Regions from separate parts of the Homo sapiens genome. Here region 2 is linked to region 1. The links come from fine-mapping of genetic effects on gene expression. Tissue or cell type: gastroesophageal junction. Region 1 holds a variant in brackets; the other region holds the start of a gene. All regions are shown on one strand. Distances are between the middles of the regions.

Region 1 (8,107 bases):
TTCTTATTTCAGCTAAAATAACCATGTTCAAAGGATACATTAATCCCATTGACCTTTGCAGAGCTATTTAGAGATACCTTGCCTTTTTTTTCCTTCTCTTTTTTTCCATATTAAAGTTTTTGGTGGAATTTCCTCACCCAAGTCAGTTGTGAAATCTGTACAGTGGAGACAATAAAATGGAGGCTTAATGATTCAGTTCATGTTCCTTTATCAACTCACTGCCCACACAGCCAACTCATTAGTATCAAATAGAACAAAAATGCCTGCAGGAAAATCGTGGGTGCTACTTTCAAGCAGTTCTTTTGATCTATGAGTCATCTTTGCTCTGGCTCCAACTTTAGGCAAATCATTTAACTTTCCCTAGTCTTTGCTTTGTTAAGCCTCTGTTTCCCCATTCACAAAATGGGCCTCATATAGTTGCCACCTCACAGAATCATGGAGAAGAGTATATCAGATAATGCTGGAAGATATCACTCAATCTGTTTACTCAAAAAAGCACTCAAGTGCCTGGAAATCTACTTTTAGGGATGCTACTGCACTTAATTGATATAATAAAACATATATGGTGGCTTCTATCATTCAAGTTTTTATAAATGAAGGAACAGAAAAGTTAAGTAACTTGCCCAATGTCACCCAGCTAAAAGTAGAGAACGGTGGATTTGAACTCTTTTCTGTTCGACTCCGGATTATTTTCAATGCTCCACACTGATGAACAACAACATATGTGGAGTGTCTCCTATAGCAAGCATTTGGCAAAATGCTGAAGCAAATTTTTTTAGAAAAAAATTCATTCCATTTAAGTCAAGCCTAGTCCTTAGGCAAAGCTATGAAGTGAAGTAAGCAAAATTGATCTCCTCTGTCCTTCCTGCCCACCTCTAAGGAACAGCCTTCTTGTGGCCCCTATAAGCCCAGGGATCTTCTCACAAATGCCTCACTAGGACCTACCTACCCAGACAGTGGCCTGACTTCTACATCAGTGATACACAAAGTAACCGGTCTATGCGTTGCTTCTTTAGCGGTGATTTCTGAGATTTTGGTGCACCTATCACCCCAGCAGTGTACACTGTACCCAATGTGTAGACTTTTATCCCTTGCCACCTCCCACCATTTCCCCCAATTCCCCAAAGTTCAGTGTATCGTTCTTATGCCTTTGCGTCCTCATAGCTTAACTCCCACATATGAGTGAGAACATATGATACTTGGTTTTCCATTCTTGAGTTACTTCACTTAGAATAATAGTCTCCAATTCCATCCAGGTTGCTGCAAATGCCATTATTTCATCCCTCTTTATGGCTGAGTAGTATTCCATGTTTTATATATATATATAAAACATGATATATATATCACATTTTCTTCATCCACTCATTGATTGATGGGCATTTGAGCTGGTTCCACATTTTTGCAATTGCAAATTGTGCTGCTGTAAACACGCGTGTGCAAGTATCTTTTTTGTGTAATGACTTCTTTTCCTCTGGGTAGATACCTAGTAGTGGGATTGCTGGATCAAACTGTAGATCTACTTTTAGTTCTTTAAGGAATCTCCACACTGTTTTCCCTAGTAGCTGTACCAGGGAAATAATTTAACTTTCCCTAGTCTTTGTTTTGTTAAGCCTCTGTTTCCCCATTTTACATTCCCACCAGCAGTGTAAAAGTGTTCCCTTTTCACTGAATATATTATTTTTTGATTTTTAAATTATGGCCATTCTTGCAGTACTGAGGTGATATTGCATTGTGGTTTTGATTTGCATTTTCCTGATAGTTTGTGATGTTGAGCATTTTTCCATATGCTTGTTGGCCATTTATATATCTTCTTTTGAGAACTGTCTATTCATGTCCTTAGCCCACCTTTTTTTTTTTTTTTTTTTTTTTTTTTTTGAAACAGAGTCTCACTCTGTCACCGGGCTGGAGTGCAGTGGCACGATCTTGGCTCACTGCAACCTCCACCTCCTGAGTTCTAGCAATTCTCCTGCCTCAGCCTCCGGAGTAGCTGGGATTACAGGCGTGTGCCACCACACTCAGCTAATTTTTGTATTTTTACTAGAGACAAGGTTTCACCATGTTGGCTAGGATGGTCTCGATCTCTTGACCTCGCGATCTGCCCACCTCTTGCTGGGATCATTTGTTTTTTCTTGCTGATTTATTTGAGTTTTTTGTAGATTCTGGATATTAGTCCTTTGTCAGAGGTATAGATTGTGAAGATTTTCTCTGTAGGTTGTCTGTTAACTCTGCTGATTATTTTTTTGCTGTGCAGAAGCTTTTTGGTTTAAGTCCCATCTATTTATATTTGCTTTTGTTGCATTTGCTTTTGGGTTCTTCGTCATGAAGTCTTTGCCTAAGCCAATGTCTATAAGGGTTTTTCTGATGTTATCTTCTAGAATCTTTATGGTTTCTGGTCTTATATTTAAGTGTTGGATCCACCTCAAGTTGATTTTTGTAAAAGGTGAGAGATGAGGATCCAGTTTCATTCTTCTACATGTGGCTAGCCAATTATCCCAGAACCATTTGTTGAATACAGTGTCCTTTCCCCTCTCCACTTTATGTTTTTGTTTGTTTTGTCAAAGATCAATTGGCTGTAAATATTTGGCTTTATTTCTGTGTTCTCTATTCTGTTCTCTATTCTGTTTTATAGAACAGACTCTATTCTATTCTATAAAATGTGCCTATTTTTATACTAGTACCATGTAGTTTTGGTGACTATGACCTTATAGTATAGTTTGAAGTTGTGTAATGTGATGCCTCCAGATTTATTCTTTTTGCTTAGTCTTGCTTTGATTATGTGGGCTCTTTTTGGGTTCCATATGAATTTTAGGATTTTTTTTTAGTTCTGTAAAGAATGGTGAAGTTATTTTTATGGGAATTGCATTGAATTTGTGCATTGTTTTTGGGAGTATGTCATTTTCACAATATTGATTCTACCCAGCCATGAGCATGGAATGTGTTTCCATTTGTTAGTGTCATCTATGATTTCTTTTAGCATTGTTTTGCAGTTTTCCTTGCAGAGGTCTTTCACGTCCTTGGTTAGGTATATTCCTAAGTTGTTTTTTGTTTTGTTTTGTTTCGCAGCTATTGTAAAAGGGGTTAAATTCTTGATTTGATTCTCAGCTTGGTCACTATCGGTGTATAGCAGAGCTACTGATTTGTCTGTACTAATTTTGTATCCTGAAACTTTGCTGAATTCATTTACCAGTTCTAAGAGCTTTTTGGATGAGTCTTCAGGGTTTTCTAGGTATACACTCATATCATCAGCAAACGGTGACAGTTTGACTTCCTCTTAAGGAAGCTCTTGGATGCCCTCTGTTCTGTCCATTTCTATCATTGACCCGAAAAATTAATTCATGTGAACATATCAGTGTTGCTAATAAAGAACCTTTGGAGTCTCTGGATAAAATCTTTATAATTTAAAGTGGGTCTACAGAGGAAAATAAATTGTTCTACAAAAAAAAGACATGCACTTGTATGTTTATCACAGCACTATTCACAATAGCAAAGACATGGAATCAAAGTGCCCACTGGAAGTGGATTGGATAAAGAAAATAGGGTTTATAAACACCGTGGAATACTATGCAGCCATAAAAAAGAACAAAATCATGTACTTTGCAGCAAGATGGATGCAGCTAGAGGCCATTGTCCTAAGCAAATTAATGCAGGAACAGAAAACCAAATACCATATGTTCTCACTAAGTGAGGGCTAAACATTGGGTACTCGTGGACATCAAGATGGCAAAAATAGGCACTGGGGACTACTAGAAGGGAGAGAAAGTGGGAGCAAGGGTTGTAACTATTGGGTACTATGCTCATTACCTGAGTGACAGGATCAATCATACCCCAAAACCCAGCATCACACAATATTCCCATGTAAAAAACCTGCACATGCACCTCCTGAAACTAAAATAAAAGTTGAAATTATTTGTAATAAACAAACAAAATGGGACTATTATAGATGTTCCTTAACCCAGAGAATCATTCTGATAGTGTGAATTTTAGGTACCTGTACCATGCAAGGCTGTAAGAAATATACATTAGGGAAACAGATGGAAATTTAGTTGCTACTTCAGTCACTTAAAACTGACTCTTGTGTGTATGTG[T/C]ATATGTACACACATCCACATGTGTGTGGCCTGTGGTAGCATGGTGAGGCATGATGACATGCTATTATGATGTGAGGGTTAGGGAGAGAAGCTACTTGTTTTTTGGTCAAAAGATTTCCTCTGAGTCTGCCAGAGAGAGGCAGGGTGAACTTAAACCTTGCTTCTCTATCAGAGACAGATATTTTTTTCTCTCCTCTTCGTATTCCTAGTACTAAGGGAGGATGTGTGCCCAGTGTGCCAAGAAGAGTGCCTGGAACATTGCAGGCACTCAATAAGTGTATTAGTCCTTCAGCAAGCATCCACTTAGCTCTTGTTTTATGCCAGGCTCTGTTTATACACCAGAGAATAAAACAGATGAAGACCTGGCTCTCCTGGTGCTCACATTCTAGTGGCAGAGACATTAAATAGAGGGGAAGGAGTGAAGTGAGGAGCAGCCTTTAAGAAGTTCAAGTTGGGGGCAAAAGGAGGTAAAAACAGACTGTGTGCGTGTAGCCTGCACTGTGTTCCCTTTCTCTGGGCCATATCCAGAATGACATAGATCTATGATAGTTCTATGGCAGGCTGAGTTTGGGTATTTAAATTGTTCAAAGAGGGAATTGGGGCCATGCGCGGTGGCTCACACCTGTAATTCCAGCACTTTGGGAGGCTGAGGCAGGCAGATCACAAGATCAAGAGATCGAGACCATCCTGGCCAGCATGGTGAAACCCCGTCTCTACAAAAATACAAAAATTAGCTGGGCGTGGTGGCAGGCACCTGTAGTCCCAGCTACCTGGGAGGCTGAGGCAGGAGAATCACTTGAACCCAGGAGGTGGAGGTTGCAGTGAGCCGAGATCATGCAACTGCAATCCAGCCTTGTGACAGAGTGAGACTCTTTCTAAAAAAAAAAGGGGGGGAATTGGGATAAGTTGAAGTAAAAACTTTCTTACTAGGATAGAATGCCAAGGGAAAGTGCAAATTCCATTCCTTGAATAAAAATGGGTGATGAAAATCCAATTCTTACCAGGAACCATGAGTTGAAGAAAGAATGCTGGACAGGAAGTCTGCATTCCTGCTGTGCTGTTTATAAGCTGGGCGACCTTAGCCAAGTCTCTCCACCACCATAAGCCTTAGTGTCCTCATCTACAGAAAGAGAAGGGAGGATTTGATGACCACTGAGTTCCCTTCCAATCCTGTGGATTCAATGACACCAAACTCTTCTGGTCTCTTCAAGTCCTCTACTTCTATATTTTCATTTACTGTAGGTTTTTACTGGAAAAAACAGAATGCACCACTTCTTGGAATATAGTGTTAGCCTCAAGATTTCTTAAAAAGTATAACCCACTGCTGGGATTACCATTGTGAAAAGTCTGAGAGAGGAGACAGGGCAGAGACAAGGGTTGGGGGCAGAGGGAACACATATAATACCACTATGTCTGTGTATAGACAGGAAATCTCAAAATATCTCTCACGGTCATGTGGGGCATCTCCCTCACTGTCATAATACAGGTAAATCAAGCTCTATACAATCTATACTGTTGAAAAGCAGCATCAAAACCCAGTTTGGGTCATTTAAATTATAGAAATACACTAGAGAAATTGTTATTAAAGAGAATCTTTTAATATCTTTTGTGATGCAAATGAATGCTCCATATTTCATTTTCATGACAATCTGGGTTTGTATGAATTTATATTTAAAAATTACAGCCAATATTTACCAAGGGCCCACCCTGTATCAGGCTCTGCGCCAAGAAGTTTGCATACAGTATTGCATCTAATAACAGCCTCACAAAATTATTTCTGATTATCACAATTTTACAGAAGAAGAAAATGCAGCTCAGAGAAGTTGAGTGATTTACCCAAAGTAACACAGAGTGTAGTAGGAAGGAGAATGAGTAGACAAGCCTAAATTTATCTAATCTAAGAGCCAAAATTCTTAACCACTACTCTATACTGCCCAAAAAAATTGAAGCAAAGTCTGCTCTGGGTACATGTGGAGTCTAGGGGCTCTCTTTGTCCTGTAGCTTCTATTTTCTTAGTCCAAGTCCCCACACCCATTTCTCAGCTACTGAACCTTGTTTACAGGCCTGAAAAATGGCAAGTGGTTTTCAGGCATAGATTCTGTTCTCAGAAGCCCAAGACTATGAGCCAAAATAGGCCGTGGAAGGCTCAAAAGAGAGTGGCCAGGCCAAGAGAAGGCTCAAAGCCATGTTATGTGGGAACAGTGGAAGAAGTGAACAGGCTTGGACTGGAAAGAAGAAGGCTCCAGGGAAACAGGTGCTAACAGAGTTTTTCACAGCTCAGCTGTCTCATTTGAAGAAGTCGCTTCAGCCAGAAGCAGCAGACTCAGTACATTCAGCAATGCAGATTGATTTTTAAAATACAGAAAGAAACAGAAGGTGATCTATAGCACAAAGTCAGGTATTTAAGTTTTAAAAATTTTTTAAATCTATGACAGGCCGGGCGTGGTGCTTCAGGCCTGTAATCCCAGCACTTTGGGAGGCTGTGGCAGGTGGATCACCTGAGGTCAAGAGTTTGAAACCAGCCTGGCCAACATGGTGAAACCCTGTCTTTACTAAAAATACAAAAATTAGCCAAGCATGGTGACACGTGCCTGTAGCCCCAGCTACTTGGGAGATTGAGGTAGGACAATCATTTGAACCCGGGAGGCGGAGCTTGCAGTGAGCTGAGATCGCACCACTGCACTCCAGCCTGAGCAACAGAGGGAGACTCCATCTCAAAAAAAAAAAAAATCTGTGACAAAAAAGTACATGTTTTACAAGAACTCATACAAATAGAAAAATACACATCATATGCTTTAGGATGGTTGCTTATGAGGAAGAAGTAAGAGGGCTGGGAAGAGTCAAAAGGAAGAAATAAGTGGCATTTGCCTTATTTTTACCTTGGTCCGAATATATGCATGAGGACCACATGTGTTAAGCCCCAGGAGATAATGCTAGGATCCGCAGGTGAAACTCAAAGAGCACTATTCAAAATACATCCTGAGCCCACACACTTTGCACACCAAGATGCCATTGTCTCTGGCCCGAACTTCCGCAGCAGTCTCTAACTGCTCTCCCTAAGCCCACTTACTTTCCCATACAGTCTATTTGCAGAGCAAATTTTCTATAACTTAAGTCAAATCGTACTAGGACCCTCCAATGACTCCTTATCATGTTTAGAGTAAAATACGGTATCCTTACAAAGACTCCCAAGGCCCCATGGGTCTGGCTCCCATGGTCTGCCTCCCATTCCCTTTCTAACCTCATATCTCACCATCCTCCCCTTTGCCTTCCCCATTCCAATCACACTGGCCTCTTCACTGCTCCATAAACCTGCCTCAGGCCCTTTGCGCTTACTGTTTCTGCTGCTGGAATGCTCTTCCCCTTGATACTCACATGGCTCTTTCAGGACTCCACTTGAAAGTCAGTTGTCCATGAGGCCTTTCCTAACCACACTAGTTAAGACTGCAAGTGTCCGCCCCTGGCATTCTCTTTCTTTCTTACTTGTCCCAGTCGTGCTCTTCATTTTACTTGCCTTTATTCTGTCTCTCTTCTGTAGGAAGCAAACTCCAAAAGCACAGAGATTGCTTTCTATTTTGCTCACTTGTTAGATCCTCAGAACTTAATACCTGAAGCATAGTATGCACTCAGTAAAAGCATTTGAATTGATTTTTGTTCAACGTAAAAAATTTCCTACAGAGTTGACCATAAATGAAATGAGATATCTCATAAGGTAGTGAGCTCCCCACCTCTGGATGTATTCAAGACTGAAAGCATTCAAGATGTATTCAAAGCTGTGATCTTTTGGTAAAGATACAAAAGAAAAAATTCAAGCCCTAGGTATTTGATTGGACTAGATATTAACCCAAGTGCCTCCCAACCCTGAAATATCATAGTTCTGAGAATCACCACAAAGAGGCTAAGACTCTTTAAACTGAACCTAGGGGAGGTCAGCAAATGCTTAAGAAACCAGGGTCATAGTTTCTCCATTCTTCTCTGCCTAGTGAATTGAGCACCAGTAGCTTTTGGTTTGAGGGGGACAG
Region 2 (8,107 bases), 780 kb after region 1:
ATTGACAAAATGTTTTTGAAAATGTCTCTTTTCTCACAAAATAGCCCAAAATCAAGAGACTGAATTTTAGCAAACATATTTAATAGGAGAAAAGCAGCATTGCCTCTATTTCCCTTTTATTTTTAATAAAGTTTACAATTAATTTTTAATCTCTAACACATTTATACGCCTCAAATATAAAAAGAAAAAGAGATACACTAAGAGGCTTTATTCCCACTGCTACCCAAATCTAACCTGTTCCTATTACCTCCTACAAATGACTTTTTTTTTTTTTTGAGACGGAGTCTCCCCGTCACCCAGGCTGGAGTGCAATGGCACGATCTCAGCTCACTGCAGCCTCTGCCTCCTGGGTTCAAGTGATTCTCCTGCCTCAGCCTCCCAAGTAACTGGGAATACAGGTGCACACCACCATACCCAGCTAATTTTTTGTATCTTCAGTAGACATGGGGTTTCACCATATTGCTCGGTCTGGTCTCAAACCCCTGACCTCGTGATCCGCCCTCTTAGGCCTCCCACAAATGACTATTCATTGTTTCTCTTTATACTGTTTGTTTTGCAAATACAGGCAAATGCATATATAAATTTTTATATCCTCCTCCTCTTGTAAAAGGAAGTATAATATATATTGTTCTGCACCTTATAAACCAGTATCCCATTAATATGCTTCAAACTTAATTTCAATACATATTTTTTTGGAGCCTAGGTATAACAGTAAAGAAACTTCGACTGAGTTATTCTTGCTACATCCTCCAACGACTCATAATTATGCCCCACAACTCTCTATGGTTCACCTCCTTAGCGGTTCAAAGGAAACACAGTGGTTAAAAAAAAAAAAAAAAACTCTCTAAGGCTGAAAAAAACAGAAGTTACTAGTATTCCTTCCAGTTCAGAAACATTATTGACAAGCAAAAGGGGGGAAAAAAAGGAAGGAAAAAAACGTTAAAAAAAATCAGCAAATAGTTGGGAAAAAACATGGAAGAGATTATAGCTATAGTAAGTGTTTCTAATAACTGTACAAGCAACTAACTGAATCACTTACTTGGCTAACACTTTGGTGTGAGTATTGATGACATTCAAAGCTTCCTTGAAACTTCCATTCTGGATAAGGCATACCACTTTACAATGCAGGGCAGTTACGTCATCTTTGTTGATCTGTAGTACTAGAGAACAATTTTAGGAAAAGTCATTTTTAAATCCATTTCCTTTTCACATTTTTACTAAATTTTCCCACCCTGTCTCTCCGAAAGCTAAATTTCTACTTTTATTGCAACAGAAATAATTGGTCAGAACAACTGGAAGAAACAGCAACAAAACAAAACAAACCCAGAAAACAACTAATCTTTGCTTTTAACTTAAGAAGTGACAATAAGGAGAGTTATAGATTAAATTTTCAATGAGATAAAGATTCCCAATATACATGTACCAAAAAAGTGCAGTGAAATAAAGAAGAAAGAAGCAATTTCTCCAGATATTTCATCTTGAAATGCATGCTACATTCTACATAGTTCATTACTTCACAGGGAAAAAGTTCAGGTAGAATTTGGAAGCAAATGACCTAGGTTTGGTGCAAGCTTGCCACTAAATGCTTTGAGGTATTGGGCATATCACTTAACAGCCAAATCTCAGTTTTCTTAGCTACAAAATGATTAGAAAAGCATTACCTATTTAATAAGGTTACTGACAATATGAAATGAATATTTTGGAAAAATCTTATAAAGTATAATACAAAGGCAATTTATCTTGCTGGCAACGTTTCCAAAAATCATTAAAATTTCCCCTTTTCAACTAAGATGACCAAAGTATAAGGAAGAACTCAGGTGGCAAGTTTCAACGCTAACAACTGTTCGGTGTTAAAATGACCAGGATCATAGTTACTCTTGCTCCTGTGCAACTACAGAAGTCCAATTCTCAAAGAATCACAAGAATTTCTACCAATTAAGAAAACATACTGGTAAACAAGTTGACAATCTTTGCTGATTAAAGAATTCCTGCAAAATACTATACTAAGTATACAGTACTGGTTGGAAGGCTAGAGTTAATTCAAACAAATTTAGGGATCAAATAATTCTAATTCGTAGCTATTTTCCTCAATGTCTGAAATCACCAAAAGTGCACTGTGGGCACAATCACTACTTTTCACGTTAACCCAGTACTAGAGTGTTGAAAATTACTTAGATAGCTTTGCATGTTACTGACACACCTTTTAGGTTACTGCTACTCTGAACAGCTAAGCCCTGCCTTGGTAATTACATTTCCAAATCTAACATGCACAGGCTGTATCTTCAGTAGAGAAGAACTGCGCACCACCGAGAACATTAAGCAGCATGGCCATATTCCAGGTATGTAGTAAGGAACAAAAGAATATGATGAATTAAACCTCACACCAAAGGCGGTAAAAACCGAAATCATCCCTTACAGGGCAAAAAAACAGGCCAAACTTTTCTTCCGACATTATTTCAAGTGTTGGTGCTTCCACACACATATTTCCTAACTTAATAACACTGAAGAGATCTCATCTATGGGAATGACAGGCCTGACATCCAGATCCAGCCCTTTCCTCTCGCCCCGTAGAACCCGTACAGCTTCCACCTGGTTAGCACCAGCCTCTAAACTACGTGTCCCAAGCAGGTTCCTCCCCCTTTAGCGGCCAAAGAGAACAAGCTCCCTCAGCAATAGAGTCCTGATCACTGCGCTCAAGACGAAGAAGAAAAGGAGGCACTTTGGAATATTTGTGAAATAAAGCAGCAAAGGAGTCAAATAAGAAAACAGTTTGAAATGGACTCCGGGAGCTGCGGTCTCTTTAAAACCTTCCCTCGCTTCCCGCGGAGGGTAAAAAGAGAAGTACACGTGGCTGTAAGCAACCAGGGACCCCAGGCTGGCCTGGTGAAGCCGAGGAGTGAGACCTGCGTCTTCCGGGCGCTAGGGCCCGAGCCGGGCGGACAATAGACGGGGGGGTTTCGGGGGTCTCCCCTTCCCGTGCCTCCCGCGCGAGGTGGTCTCGCGCGCCGGAAACAGGCCGCATCCTCCAGCCGGCCTGGGCCCGCCCCAGTGCCCACCCCGACACTTACTCTTATTGACGGTCTTGAGAGCGCGCGTGAAGTCGCCGTTCTGGCCATACCGGTTCACTTCACTCCACAGCGCAGGTACTGACACCCCCCCGCTGCCGCCGCTCGCCATCTTGGAGGAGACGAGGGGCGGGGCGGGGAGACCTCTGCCCCGGAACAGGATCTCCGAGGCAGCCAAGAGGAGGAGGAAGTCGATGATTGCTAAGCGTCGCCGAGTTGGGAGTGTCTTCAGCCCTAAGGCAGCATCAGAGATCATAATCTTCTGCTCTCGTGGCAAGAAATTTGTGCGGATAGAGTTGATACACCTCACTTGAAGTTGGCCTGGAGAAAAGAGGCGTCGGACTCCTGGACGGGGTTGGGAAACGGTCACCAGTTTCGGCTCAAAGCAGCCTGTTTCCAGGAGACCGCCATGGTCGAGGCAGCGTCCTGGTCCCACGGTGCGGGGCCGGACGATCATTTATGGGATATAAATAAAAGGACTATGAGGTGGTAAATAAAAGACTACCAACTAGAAGCCATAGGGAGTCATTTGAAGGAGAAATAGGCACGGCTCATCTGTGGTTGAGGGAAAGGGATCTTGAAAGATGATTAGGAGAACTTGGGTTCTGGGGAAAGTGCGGGAAGACATTCTGGCAGAGAAGCAAACGTGAGGAAAGGTAAGAAGGCAAGAATCTCCCATTACAAAGGGTTTGGTGAAACCCTTTGCCTGTCCTTTTCGCTCCCTTCGGGAGCAGTCGGCAATAAGCTGGAAGGGTAATGGGGTGAAAATGCCCGTGGTCAGTTCCCTGGCTCTGCGACTCACTAGATGTCTGACAATAAACAAGTTACTTAGCTTCTGGGAGTCTGTTTTCCCGATTGTGAAATGGGGATACTATATTTGTTCTAGAGATATAAAATATTAGGGTTTGCTTGCGACCGTTAATATCAAGATGTGTTCAGATGTACGAAGGGAATGGATATCTGTTGGGTACACTTGATGTGAGTGATTTTTTTTTTTTTTTGAGACGGGGATCTTGCCGTGTTGCCCAAGCTGGTCTGGAACTCCTGGGCTCAAGCAATCCTCCCACCACAGCCTCCCCAAGTGCTGGGATTACAGGCATGAGCCACCACACCAAGACGATGTGAGTGATTCACTTGATGTGAATGTTGTATTTCATTGAATGGCCTGCTCTTCAGACTCATATCTCGTCATGACCTTTACAACTTCTACTACTTCCTGTGTCCCTCAGGAACCTAGCTTTTTTTTTTTTTTTTTTTTTTTTTTTTTGAGACGTAGTCTAGCTCTGTGACCCAGGATGAACCTCACTGCAATCTCCACCTCCTGGGTTAAAGCGATTCTTTTGCCTCAGCCTCCCAAGTAGCATGAGCCACCACGCCCGGTTAATTTTTGAATTTTTAGTAGAGATGGGGTTTCACTGTGTTGGCCAAGCTGGTCTCAAACTCCTGACCTCAAGTGATCCGCCCTCTCTCAGCCTCCCAAAGTACAGGGATTACAGGCGTAAGCCACCGTGCCCGGCCTTGCTAACTACTTTTTGTCTTTCAGTCTTTCTGGTTATACGTTGAAAGTTACTTTGAGGAAACATTTGATCTTGCAGACTGGGCAGCCTTCTGGTTGCATCCTCTTAGAACAGGGGTCCCCAACCCTTGTACTGGTCTGCAGCCTGTTAGGAACCGGGCGGCACAGCAGTAGGTGATCGGTGGGCCAGTGAGCAGTACCGCCTGAGCTCCTGTCAGATCAGCTGTGATATTAGCTTCTCACAGCTCAAACCCTATTGTGAACTGGGAATGTGAAGGATCTAGGTTGCTCACTCCTTAAGAGAATCTAATGGGAAATGTAATGAGCTTGAATCATACTGAAACCAGCTGTCCAACTCCTGTGGAAAGATTGTCTTCCCTGAAACCGGTCCCTGGTGCCAAAAAGGTTGGGAGACTCCCTATAGGACTCCACTTCTGAGCACTGATAATTAAGGGTTATCTCACTCTGTATGGACTATAGTTCTGAGGCCAAGGAACCATATTTACCTTGCTCACTGCAGTATCCCTAGGATCTAGCATACTGCCTGGCACATAGTTGGCATTTTTTGTTTCACATTCCTTGCCTAATCTTGAGTTCCTTGAGGGCAGAAACTGCCCAGCTCCTGATATGGCATATGGTGCCCTGCCATATTTTTGTCTGGTCCTTCCAGTATATACAATGCAAAGAGCATGAAAGGTGGCTTGAACTCTAGGTGCTGGAGGGTGTAATTCTTGTGAATTAGTAAAAATCATGAGAAGAGCTTTAGACTTTTACTGACTAGAATTGTCACAGGTTTCAAGCCAGTTATGTTTAGATTTCAGGGGGTGGGGGCTCCAGATGACATGGTATACCCAAAATGTTGTGTGAGAAAATTGGGTATACCCAAAATTTTGTTGTATTTTGTTATTCTGAGAAAATGTAGATTCCACTGTATTCTCCAAAGGTGTTTATATCCACCATCCCCTCCCAAAAGTTAAGAGCCACTGTCCTAGTAGTACTTTTTAGAACATTGACTTTATATAAGAATTGGCAATTTTCGTTTCTATATCATTCTAATCCTATATACTTTGTAGCTTTTAGAAATGCTCAGAATTCTGCTGCTGTGGACTTGTTTCTATTTCTTATGTCATTTTAATGGAGTTTTGTGGCAAACAGCCTATAAATATGGGGCTTAACCTGCCATTTTTGAAACAGGAATCTTCCAAACCATAGTGGTGTTTTGTTTTTTTTTTTTTAAATAACAAATTTACATCTCACATTGTGAAGGATGGAAAGATTGTCTGGTGAGGGGCCACTCTGATTCATAGATGGCATCTTCTGTTTTCACATGGTGGGAAAAAAACCAGACTGATCTCTTAAAGCATGTATCTGATGCCACTTTCCTACCCTCACGATAAAATCCGAACTCCAAAGAAGAGCAGTAAGAGCTTTTGTGATCTGGCCTCTGCTTGCCACCTCCCCAACTCACATAGGTCTCTATACTTATTTCCTAGCCCCCTTGCATGCTATTCACCTCTAACTTCCATGTAGTTATGTGTCCCCCTACCTCCTGGAATTTGCATTTTTATTCATCTGACAAGTGTTTGTCTTGTATATGCCAGTGCCGTGTATTACACCAGTTGCTGTGATACAGCTGACAACAAAGAAGACAGCCCAGTGTAATACATTTATTTTCTAGTTGGGAGAGATGGGTAATAAATAAACATGTACTATGTTTGGTGGTAATAAGTTTGCTGAAGAAAATTATGGAAAGGTAAGAGAGATTGAGTATAGACTGTGGAGAATTAGTCTTTTTCATTCACAGTATACAATTGTTTTCTAGAGATCAGAGTCCTTCCTACTTTTGTGTATTCACAATACCCTATTGTTAATTCCATATTAAGACTATATACGGTGTTTTGAAATTGTCTGCCTCTGGAGACTTCCAAGATTCATTGAGAGCAGAAGGTTAATTTTGTTCATCTTTGCATTCCCAGGGTCTTATATATACATAATAGGCTGTATTTGTTCTCTAAAAAATACAGAACCAATAGGATATGTACAGATTATGAGAAATTGGCTCTGCAAAATGGAGGTGAAGTCCCACAGTCTGCCTTCTGCAGGCTGAAGGCCCAGGAAAGCCAGTGTAGTTCCAAACCCGAGGGCTTGAGAATCAGGGGAGGCAATAACGTTAAGTCCTAGTCTGAAGGCCTGAGGACCAGGAGCACCAACATCTGGGGGCACGAAATGGATGTCCCAGCAGTTCACCCTTCTTCCCCTTTTTTGTTCTATTCAGGCCCTCAATGGATTAGATGACGCTCACCCACATGGGTGAAGGCAGTCTTCTTTACTCAAGTCTACTGATTCAAGTGCTAGTCTCTTCCAGAAACACCATCACAGATGTACCTAGAAATGTTGTTTGACCAGCTATCAAGGCATCCCGTAGCCTAGTCAAGTTGACAGAATTAGCCATCTCATCAGTATCCACAATGTATTTTTATATTAATGGATTTAGCCTGAGAAGCTTCCATGTACAGTATCTTTTTTTTTTTTTTTTTGGCGACAGATTTTCGCTCTTGTTGCCCAGGCTGGAGTGCAATGGTTCGATCTCAGCTCACCACAACCTCTGCCTTCCAGGTTCAAGCGATTCTCCTGCCTCAGCCTCCCGAGTAGTTGGAATTATAGGCATGCACCACCATGCCTGGCTAATTTTGTATTTTTAGTAAAGAGGGGGTTTCTCCATGTCAGTCAGGCTGGTCTTGAACTCCCGACCTCAGGTGATCTGCCCACCTCACCCTCCCAAAGTGCTGGGATTACAGGCGTGAGCCACTGCACCCAGCCTCATGTACAGTATCTTATGGTATCTTGTCAACTCAGAGGCAAGCAGAAGAAATAAGACGTGAGCCACCGCGCCCAGCCTCATGTACAGTATCTTATGGTATCTTATCAACTCAGAGGCAAGCAGAAGAAATATTTAGCTCCATTTTATAACTTGATTTCCATTCCACTATTTTCATTGTACTGCAATGTGAGATTAACAATTCCACCCCAAGTATTTGAGGTGTGGGAAGCTGGATGTAAAAACACCATTAAAAACAACTCTTTTCAATGGCTTTCTAAGGTTGGCTGGGCTGAAATGGCAGGTTGTGGATGCTCCGTGGCACATCACACTGCCCCTTTCTTCATATTAGAAATTAAATCAGCCGATGGCAATATTGAATTCCAGGTAATTTTCTTTCTTTCTTTTTTTTTGAAACAGAGTTTTGCTCTTGTTGCCCAGGCTGGAGTACAATGGCGCAACCTCGGCTCACCACAACCTCCGCTTCCCAGGTTCAAGCGATTCTCCTGCCTCAGCCTCCTGAGTCGCTGGGATTACAGGAATGTGCCACCATGCCCGGCTAGTTTTGTATTTTTATTAGAGACTGGGTTTCTCCATGTTGGTCAGGCTGGTCTCGAACTCCTGATCTCAGGTGATCCACCTGCCTCGGCCACCCAAAGTGCTGGGATTACAGGCATGAGCTACCATGCCCAGAGAATTCCAGGTAAT

What was found. PIP is the estimated chance that this variant, and not a neighbour inherited with it, causes the effect.
Region 2: it holds the start of SRP72, and the variant in region 1 is fine-mapped to the expression of SRP72 in gastroesophageal junction (GTEx, PIP 0.96). The same link has a PIP of 0.9 or more in spinal cord.

The regions. Positions count from the first base shown.
Region 1 is chr4:57,241,447-57,249,553 of GRCh38, reverse strand. No RefSeq gene overlaps it. Among named protein-coding and RNA genes, the nearest start is that of IGFBP7, 140 kb to the right of the region's middle. The variant T/C (reference allele first, on the strand shown) is at 4,086.
Region 2 is chr4:56,462,706-56,470,812 of GRCh38, reverse strand. SRP72 (signal recognition particle 72) reads right to left here and starts at 3,196. Exons shown (of 19, transcript NM_006947.4): 1 at 3,069-3,196; 2 at 1,040-1,160. The coding sequence starts at 3,177. PAICS (phosphoribosylaminoimidazole carboxylase and phosphoribosylaminoimidazolesuccinocarboxamide synthase) reads right to left here. Exons shown (of 9, transcript NM_001079524.2): 9 at 6,235-8,107. LOC124900706 (a long non-coding RNA gene) reads left to right here and starts at 3,255. Exons shown (of 2, transcript XR_007058126.1): 1 at 3,255-3,721; 2 at 7,820-8,107. RefSeq lists an enhancer at 3,142-3,351.